2 separate regions of the Homo sapiens genome follow, and region 1 is linked to region 2. Evidence: fine-mapped expression QTL. A gene starts in region 2. The other region holds a variant in brackets. All regions are shown on one strand. Distances are from middle to middle. Region 1 has its middle 14 kb from the start of SNORD72. Region 2 holds the start of CARD6 (caspase recruitment domain family member 6).

Region 1 (5,393 bases), 23 kb before region 2:
CACAAGTAGTTTTATGAGAAAGGCTCAGGGAAGCACATTTTTCTGAGACTATATTTGTTGAAAATCTTTATTCTATTCTTACACTTTATAGTTTGGCTGGATATATATATATATAGGGTTTTAAGTTGGAAAACATTTCCTTCAGAATTTTGAAGGTATTGCTCCATCGTCTTCTAATTTCTCTTATTCTTTCTTTTCAAAGTTAAGTTTACTGAAGTATAATTTACATACAGTAAAATTCACCCTAAGTGTAGAGTTTTATATATATATATGTATGTGTATATATATGTGTGTATATATATATGTGTATATATATATATGTGTGTGTGTGTATATATATTTTATTAATTTTTTTTTAAGTAAAGACGGAGTCTCACATTGTTGCTCAGGCTGGTCTCGAACTCCTGAGCACAAGTAATCCTCCTGCCTCGGCCTCCCGAAGTGCTAGGATTACAGATTTGAGCCACCCTGCCTGGCCTAGGTGTAGAGTTCTATGAGCTTCAAAAAATGTATATAGTTGTGGCCAGGTGCAGTGGCTCATGCCTGTAATCCCACACTTTTGGAGGCCAAGGCGGGCAGATCACCTGAGGTCAGGAGCTCGAGACCAGCCTGACCAATATGGAGATACCCCTCTCTACTAAAAATATAAAATTGGCCAGATGTGGTGGCACATGCCTGTAATCCCAGCTACTAGGGAGGCTGAGGCAGGAGAATCACTTGGACCCGGGAGGTGGAGGTTGCGGGGAGCTGAGATTGCGCCATTGCACTCCAGCCTGGGCAACAAGAGCAAAACTCCATCTCAAAAAAAAAAAAAGAAAGAAAAAAGAAAAGAAACTGTATATAGTTGTGTAAATTCCATAATAAAGATATGAAATACCTCCATCACCCAAAAACATTCCCTTATGCCTTTTTGATTTCTGTCCCTCTAGTTTTGCCTTCTTCAGAATGTCATATAAAGAGAATTGTGGCCAGGTACAGTGGCTCATGCCTATAATCCCAGCATTTTGGGAGGCCAAGGCAGGTGGTCCATTTGATGTCAAGAGTTCGAGACCAGGCTGGGCGTGGTGGCTCACGCCTGTAATCCCAGCACTTTGGGAGGCCAAGGCGGGCAGATCCCAAAGGTCGGGAGTTGGAGACCAGCCTGGGCAACATGGCAAAATCCCGTTTCTACTAAAAATACAAAAATTAGCCGGGCCTGGTCGTGGGTGCCTGTAATCCTAGCTACTAGGGAGGCTGAGGCAGGAGAATTGCTTGAACCCAGGAGGCAGAAGTTGCAATGAGCGAGATCATACCATTGTACTCCAGCCTGGGCAACAGAGTGAGACTCCATCTCAAAAAAAAAAAAAATAGTTCAAGACCAGCCTGGCCAATATGGTGAAACCCTATCTCTACTAAAAATACAAAAATTAGGTGGGCATGGTGGTGAGCACCTGTAATCCCAGCTACTCCAGAGGCTGAGGCAGGAGAATTGCTTGAATCCAGGAGGCGGGGGCTGCAGTGGGTCAAGATCTTGCCACTGCACTGCACACCAGCCTGGGAGACACAGCAAGACTCTGTCTGAAAAAAAAAAAAAAAAAAAAAAAAAAAGGACCTGTACAGTATGCAGCCTTTTGTATCCAACTCCTTTCACTTAGCATAATCCTTTTGTTTTGAGACTCATCCATATTGTGTTGCATGTATCAGTAGTTCATTTATTTTTATTGATGAATAGTATTCCATTGTATGCATATACCAAAATTTGTCCATTCTCTACTTACAATGTTTAAGTTGTTTCCAGTTCTTGGAGCAGGAATAGCCTTCTATAAACATTCACACACAAGACTGTGTTTTCATTCTTCTCGAGTAGATATAGTTAAGAGTGGGATTGCTGGGGTTGTATAGTAAATGTATTGTTCACTTTATAAGAAACAGCCGCATTAAAAATTTTTTATTTCAATAGTTTTTAGGGTCCAGGTGGTTTCTGGTTACATGGATACATTCTTTAGTGGTGATTTCTGAAACTTTAACGCACCCATCACCCAAGCAGTGTACAGTGTACCCAATATACAGTCTTTTATACCTAATTTTCCTCCTGAACTTCCCTGATAAGTCCCCAAAGTCCATTACATCATTCTTATGCCTTTGCATCCTCATAGATTAGCTGCCACTTATAAGTGAGAACATATATTTGGTTTTTCATTCCTGAGTTGCTTCACTTAGAATAATGGCCACTAGCTCCATCCAAGTTGCTGCAAAAGACATTATTTCATTCCTTTTTATGGCTGAGTAGTATTCTACTGTGTATATAAAACACATTTTCTTTATCCACTCGTTGGTTGATGGGCACTTAAGTTGGTTATCTTTGCAATTGCGAATTGTGAGAAACAGCCAAATTTTTTTCAAAGTGGCCGTATCATTTTTCATTTCTACCAGCAAAGAATTTCTCATTGGCACTTGATATTGTCATTGTATATTTTTTATTTTAGCCATTCTAGTAGATGTGCAATATTATTCCATTGTATTTCAATTTGCATTTCCCTAAGGACTAATGATGTTGAGCATCTTTGCATCTGTTTATTTGCCATGCATATTTATTATTTGATGAACTATCTGTTCAGATATTTTGCCCATTTAAAAAAATTGGTTTTGGCCAGGCTCGGTGGCTCACGCCTGTAATCCCAGCACTTTGGGAGGCCGAGGCGGATGGATCATGAGGTCAGGAGATCGAGACCGTCCTGGCTAACACGGTAAAACCCCGTCTCTACTAAAAATACAAAAAAAAAATTAGCCGGGTGTGGTGGCAGGTGCCTGTAGTCCCAGCTACTCAGGAGGCTGAGGCAGGAGAATGGCGTGAACCCAAGAGGCAAAGCTTGCAGTGAGCCGAGATCGAGATCATGCCACTGCACTCCAGCCTGGGTGACAGAGTGAGACTCTGTCTCAAAAAAAAAAAAAATGTTTTTTGTTTTCTTTTCTTTTTTTTTTTTTTTGAGATGGAGTCTCACTCTGTGCAGTGGCATGATCTCCACTCACTGCAACCTCCGCCTCCCAGGTTCAAGTGATATGTATGTGTATATATATATATATATATATATACATATCATACATGTATTTATATATTTTCTCCAAACCTTTTTATTTTCTTGTGTCTTTTGGAAAACAGAGAGTTTAGTTGTGATAAAGCCCAATTTATCATTTAAAAAAATAGATAGTGCTTTTTATGTCGTATCTAAGAAATCTTTGCCTAACCCTAAGTCACAAAGATTTTCTCCTGTTTTTCTCATAGGTTT[T/C]TAGAATTTTAGGTTTTACATTTATATCGTTGATCCATCCTGACTTAGTGGTACAAGTCAAGGTTTGAGAGTCTTTTAATTTTATTAAAAATATTTTTTCTGTTCACCTGCAGTTCCATGCAGAGATTCTACTTATTTATTTATTTAACTCTGTTAAGTCTCAGAACAGAGACTCTATTTTTATTTTATTTTTGCATATGGATGTCTAGTTGTTCCAGTACAATTTGCTGAAAAGATTATCCTTTCTTGATTGAATTACCTTGACATCTTTGTCAAAAATCAATGACCATATTTCTGTGAGCCTATATCTGGATTCCATTATGTTTCACTGGTGTATATATCTATTATTACACCAATACTCACTATCTTGACTACTGAAGCTAGTAAAGCCTTGGTTGTTTTTGTTTGTTTGTTTGTTTGTTTGTTTGAAGAGCTGTTTTACTATTCCATTAAGATATGCCATAATTTATTTAACTCAACCTCAACCTCTACTTAGGGGATTTAGTTGTTTCTACTTTTCTTTTTCTTTTCTTTTCTTTTCTTTTTTTTTTTTTTTTTTGAGACACAGTTTCACTCTTGTTGCCCAGGCTGGAGTGCAATGGCATGATCTCAGCTCACTGCAACCTCCACCTCCCGGGTTCAAGCGATTCTCCTGTCTCAGCCTCCTGAGTAGCTGGGATTACAGGTGCCCACCACTACGCCCAGCTAATTTTGGGTATTTTTAGTAGAGAGGGGTTTTCACCATGTTGGCCAGGCTGGACTCCTGACCTCAGGTGATCCACCCACCTCAGCCTCCCAAAGTGCTGGGATTACAGGTGTGAGCCACCGTGCCCAGCCTTCACTTTTCACTCTTGTTGCCCAGGCTGGAGTGCAATGGTGCGATCTCGGCTCACTGCAGCTCTGCCTCCTGTGTTCAAACGATTCTCCTGCCTCAGCCTCCCAAGTAGCTGGGATTACAGGTGCCTGCTACCATGCCCGGCTAATTTTCTGTATTTTTAGTAGAGATGTGGGTTTTCACCATGTTGGGTAGGCTGGTCTTCTAGTGATCTACCCACCTTGGCTTCCCAAAGTTCTGGGATTACAGGCATGAGCCACGCCTGGCCAGTTGTTTCTACTTTTCTACTTCCTTTTTCTTTTTTTCTTTTCTTTTTTTTTTTTTTTTTTGAGACAGAATCTCACTCTGTCACCCAGGTTGGAGTGCAGTAGCATGCTCACAGCTGCAGCCTCAACCTCCTGGGCTCAAGTGATCCTGCCACCTCAGCCTCCCTGGTAGCTGGGGCTACAAGTATGTGCTATGATGCCTGGCTAAATTTTGTATTTTTTGTGGAGATGGGGTTTCGCCATGTTGTCCAGGCTGGTCTTGAACTTCTGGGTTCAAGCAATCTGTCTACCTTGGCCTCCCACAGTGCTGGGATTACAGGCATGAGCCACCACATCCTGTAATCCCAGCACAGCTGCTCTATTTTCTTGTATTATAAATAATACAGCAACAAATTTCCATGGGTAAAACATTGTGTCTTTGTGATAGTGTACATGTTTAGCATTTGGGAATGCTGGTCCAATGTTTCCCAAAATTTCCTCCTAGTTATTAGGTCTAGTTTCAGGTCCAGGCCCACTTGCATCAGCTGTATCATGTAATCAACCAAGCTGTGTGTGGCTGTGTTCTAAGGCACTATGTCTGATCTTAAACAGTGTGCCTTACCTACTAGCTCTATGTTAAAGATTCCCTACTTTCTTCCCTCTTTGGTCAGTTCATGCAAGCCATAGAAAGGTACTTCCTTAAGAAAACAAAAATAAGATGCCCTTTTAGAGTTGAAAAAGTGTGTGTCAGGTCATCAAGGATATTCTGCCTGCTTGACAATTATTTTTGATCATTAGCAAACCAGTGTTCAAACAAGTTTTGATTGGGAGTGAATCACTTTGCTGATTAATCACTGAGGCAAGTTGTAAAACTATTCTTCGTCTGTTTGGGCTGCTGTAACAAAATACCATGAACTGGGTAGATTATTCTTAGGCTATTCTTGCATTTCTATAAAGAAATACCTGAGATTGGGTAATTTACAAAGAAAAGAGGTTTCATTAGCTCATAGCTCTGCAGGCTGTACAGGAAACATGGCAACGACATCT
Region 2 (5,393 bases):
GAGCTATGATTGCACCATTGCACTCCAGTCAGGGCAACAGAGTGAGACTCTGTTTCAAAACAAAACAAAAGGAAAACTTGTAGAAAGAAGTTTAAATTTCAGTGCTAAGTTTCCCACTTCAAGTGAACACTTTTTTCCCATTGGCTTTGAAATCTCAGAAAGGTTACTGTGAGAAAGGAGCATATTTAGGGTTGAGCATTGGAGAGGAGACTGGTGGTTTGGGACACCTGTTATTAAAGTACCTTCCTGGTCAAGTTGAACAACAACAACAAAAAATTGGCAATCTTTATGACAGTGCCAATCAAATTGTGGACATGAGGTGGGATGCATCACTTGAAAGCCATACTTTTGAGATACATATTTTAAAACTCTTACCTAGAGTATAATGGTGGTTACCAGAGAGAGGCTGGGAGTTGCGGGGAAGGGAAGGGTGCTGGTCAAAGGATACAAAGTCACAGACAGGAGGAATAAATTATAAGTATTGAAGGTGATGTATATGTTAATTTGAGTGAATCATTCCATACTGCATACATATAAAATTACTGAATATCCCATAACTATATATGATTATAATTGGTCAAAGTAAATAAAAATTTTAAAACTCTTCAATTTTATAAAACTCTTACCTAATATTAATTTTTAATATCATATGAGGATTTTTTTTTTTAAGAGCCTAGGCTAGAGTAACTTACTACAACCTCAAACTTCTGGGCCGAAGCAGCTCTCCTGCCTCAGCCTCCTGTCCCAAGCAGCTGGGACTACAGATGCGCACCATCACGACCAGATAATTTTTAAATTTTTTGTAGAGACAGGGTCTTGCTATGTTGCTCAGGTTGGCCTCAAACTCCTGGTCTCAAGTGATCTTCCTCAGACTCCCAAAGTGCTGGGATTACAGGCATGAGCCACCTCGCCCAGCCAGGATTTTAAAATTCTTTTTTAACCTTGGAGATACCAGAATTGTATTACTCATTATCCTTGGTTCCTAATAGCATTGGTTCATGCATGTTCTGCTTTTATTTACATATTAGCTATTTACCTTTAACAATATAGTAGCCCTGATAGGCCCAACTCCTACATTGTAGGACATCCATGATCTCCTCCCCAATCCCATCCCATCCCCAAGCTCCCCATATGCGAGGTAACCATCATTCTGAATTTCATATTTATCATTCTTTGCTTTTTGTTTTGTATAATTTTAATGACTTCATGTATACTCTTAAATGTAAGGGTGTGTTTATTTTCAACTTTTAAAAAGGTTGTCATACTGTATATAATCTTTTGGGATTTACAGTTTTTCCTTACTATTGTTATGATTTCTCTATATTGTGGGTCACTGAAGTTCATTCTTTTTGAATGCCATGTAATATTATGTTATAAGAAATATCACAGTTTATTCATCCAGTATCCTGTTGCTAGTTATGCAGATCGCTTTCAGGTTCTTGTGAACTATGAAGGAGTAAATAAAGACCAACCAGGTAATTTTCTTAAAATAAATAATAATAAAAAACCAAAAATGTAAAATATTAAATAGTAATGTTTAAAGTGGAAGTATAAATCTCCCTGTAGTCATATTCTCAGAGATAACCAGTGTTAAAATTTGGGATATCTCTTGTCTTCTTTAAAATATAATGCATATCTGCATATACATATTATATACATATACTATATACACATTAAGTTTTTTAAAACAAAAATGAGATCTATAACTTGCTGTTTCCATAGCAATATATCATGGATATCATTACTTGTCAATATGTAGAGATGTACTTTATCCTTTTTAACAGTTCTTTGGTGTTTCACTGTCGACATGTCAATATTTATTCCCTAAACCCCAACTTTGGTTATTTTCAATTTTGTACTGTTGTAAACAATGTTGTAATGCAGATTCTTGTACATACATCTTCGGGCATTTGCTCAATTATTTCCTTAAGATAATTTCCTAGAACTGGAATTGCTGGGTTGAAGGATATGAAGTTTTATTTTTGTCTGTCTTCAACTTTATTTATTTATTGCTGTATATTGCCATATTGCCCACCAAATATCAATTAATAATTTACATTCTTGGCATCATAGTATAGTTCTCTGAGCAGGGAATACCTAGTCCAACCTGAAGTTCAAGAGCGACTTCTTGGAGGAGGTGACCCTGGGTCTGAGTCATGGTGAGAATTTATCAAGACTTCAAAAGAGCAGATAAATAATCCACAAGGACCCCGGATCAGAGAGTGCTCCGAGCTGGGTTGCCCCACTGTGCTTGTATCTGCACTCTCCAACACTAGGCATCATTGACATGTTAAAGCTTAGCCAAATAGAATTGTTCTTTGTCATTCTTTTTTTAACTTTTACTTATTCATTAGGATGATTTCATAATATATTTCCTGGTTTAGAGGAAACAGGAACAATGGCTACCGAGAGTACTCCCTCAGAGATCATAGAAAGAGAAAGAAAAAAGTTGCTTGAAATCCTTCAACATGATCCTGATTCTATCTTAGACACGTTAACTTCTCGGAGGCTGATTTCTGAGGAAGAGTATGAGACTCTGGAGAATGTTACAGATCTCCTGAAGAAAAGTCGGAAGCTGTTAATTTTGGTACAGAAAAAGGGAGAGGCGACCTGTCAGCATTTTCTCAAGTGTTTATTTAGTACTTTTCCACAGTCAGCTGCCATTTGCGGCTTAAGGCATGGTAAGTTGACTTTGTATACTTTTTGGGGTGAGAGGAAGGGGGCAGACTTTCTGAAAAAGAAAACAAAATGAAAGAAAATTGTTGCCTTTTATTTTTGTTAGTCTTTTTCTGGAGATAATTTTCATTGAAATATGAAATAGGGAAAAACTGGAATTTAAAAAGTTTCTGAAATTTAACATCTTATTGGTCTACTGAATCGATAATTTGTTTTTCAGACTGTACTCAAAACTTGAAGTTGTTTTAGTGCTAACAAACTGCTCATTATTCTGGCAGTAACATGCTAAAATCTCACAGTTGGAAGGAAAATACTTTAATAATAACACAATCCAGGGTTTGTTTTTCAAGTAGATGAATTCGTGGATATTTACAGTGCCAAGACCACAAGCTGTATCTTTCACTTAGTATAGCCGTTTTGAAAATACAAGGAAAATAATTTTTAACACATAGATGGCAAATCAGTAGTTTCATTTTTTTGGTGATAAGAATGCCAGCAGCAGCTGTTTTCTGGAGCAATTCCAGTGCTAATTCTTAAATGGTTCAAAGATAACTAGTAGTCCATGAAAAAGCAATTCTTCCAGTTATTTAGCAATTCTGTAAATTACTACTAGGACTAGGTCTAGCTCTTTTTCTAGGAATCTAAAAAAAAATTCAAAATTATTTTAAGGGATGTTAGAGAGGTAGAGGCTCAGATAAAAAGGTGAATGTTAGTGATACCTAATTTAGGACAAGATTTATATGCTTAGAAATTTTTCTTTTATTATTTCTAAAGCACACTATTCCAAATAGAGCCATTTGCTTACTGATTAGAAATTATTTGTGATCAGATTTCATTAGCAATGACCCCAAGAGACGTGAGTCTGTTGTGAGTCACAGTAAGTCCACAAGTAAACACTGTTCATATGATTCAAATTTTTCGTTTTATTCACTTACCCTGTAAGGTTGCTAGGAAGGACTCAAACTTTAAGCAAGACAGTGGTGTGATCTGATTTTTTTTTTTAGTGGAAAAAAGAAAGTTCTGAAAGTTGACATGTTGACATGCAAGTTATATAGGAGGTGTTAGGTATTCCTGTCCTCCAGTGAAATAAGAGGTGGCTGGGCGCTGTGGCTCACACCTGTAATCCCAGCACTTTGGGAGGCCGGGGCAGATGGATCACCTGAGGTCAGGAGTTTGAGACCAGCCTGACCAACATAGTGAAACACTGTCTCTACTAAAAATACAAAAATTAGCTGGGCATCATGGCGCATGCCTGTAATCCCAGCTACTTGGGAGACTGAGGCAGGGGAATCACCTGAACCCGGGAGGTTGAGGTTGCAGTGAGCCCAGATCGTGCCATTGCACTCCAGCCTCGGCAACAAGAGTGAAACTCTGTCTCAAAAAATAAATAAATAAATAAAAGGAGAGGGATGAAGCTTTGAGGCCTCAGGAACTCTAGCTGTTATACAGCTTCTTTTTCTTAATTGGGAAAAACAATTCTTTTCTTTGCAGAAGTTTTAAAACATGAGAATACAGTACCTCCTCAATCTATGGGGGCAAGCAGTAATTCAGAAGATGCTTTTTCTCCTGGAATAAAACAGCCTGAAGCCCCTGAGATCACAGTGTTCTTCAGTGAGAAGGAACACTTGGATTTGGAAACCTCTGAGTTTTTCAGGGACAAGAAAACTAGTTATAGGGAAACAGCTTTGTCTGCCAGGAAGAATGAGAAGGAATATGACACACCAGAAGTCACATTATCATATTCAGTTGAGAAAGTTGGATGTGAAGTTCCAGCAACTATTACATATATAAAAGATGGACAGAGATATGAGGAGCTAGATGATTCTTTATACTTAGGAAAAGAGGAATATCTAGGATCTGTTGACACCCCTGAAGATGCAGAAGCCACTGTGGAAGAGGAGGTTTATGATGACCCAGAGCACGTTGGATATGATGGTGAAGAGGACTTCGAGAATTCAGAAACCACAGAGTTCTCTGGTGAAGAACCAAGTTATGAGGGATCAGAAACCAGCCTTTCATTGGAGGAGGAACAGGAGAAAAGTATAGAAGGTATGGAAATATCTTGTATAGTTAGTTAGGCAACAACTTAATAAGTTAATAAGCTTGCCATGACATAATGGGGATGGGGGATGAAAAAGGGACAGATGTCAGCAGAAAATCAACTACTAAGAAATTCCTCGTGCCTCTCTGACCTGGAATCTCCTCGAGGTAGGTGTTGACTTAAAGGAGCTCCCAGGACCTAGGAAATGATGGACAGCATAAGCAAAAGTAAATATTGATTGTCAGTTTGTAAATTTCTGTAGTTCGTATAAGGAGTTGCCAATCATTAATTTCCCATTATACGTACGAGGAGTTGCTAATCATTAATTTCAGGCTAACCTATTTCTCAGGTTAAACCACTTTAGTTATTTTAGTGCCTTTGTGACCAGAGAGATATGGGGATTATGGGTTTGACTATTTAAGTGAAAACAGTCAGTAAATGGCTAAGATCCCAAAATATTGTTACTTGGCTTGATCCAGTCCACATAATGCCATCTTGATGAGAATTATATTTGTATCTTGAATCTGAATATTTCTTTATTTAAAAAAAATTTGTTTTTAAACAGGGTCTCACTCAGGCTGGAGTGCAGTGGCACAATCATGACTCACCGCAGCCTCTACCTCCCAGGCTCGGGTGATCCTCCTACCTCAGCCTCCTGAGTAGCTAGCATTACAGG

What was found. PIP is the estimated chance that this variant, and not a neighbour inherited with it, causes the effect. A credible set is the group of variants that fine-mapping cannot tell apart.
Region 1: its variant is the best candidate, but not a certain one, in a credible set for the expression of CARD6 in whole blood (TOPMed, PIP 0.64).

Annotation. Positions count from the first base shown.
Region 1 is chr5:40,816,426-40,821,818 of GRCh38, forward strand. No RefSeq gene overlaps it. Among named protein-coding and RNA genes, the nearest start is that of SNORD72, 14 kb to the right of the region's middle. The variant T/C (reference allele first, on the strand shown) is at 3,267.
Region 2 is chr5:40,838,985-40,844,377 of GRCh38, forward strand. It overlaps CARD6 (caspase recruitment domain family member 6), which reads left to right and starts at 2,383. Exons shown (of 3, transcript NM_032587.4): 1 at 2,383-2,681; 2 at 4,168-4,725. The coding sequence starts at 2,399.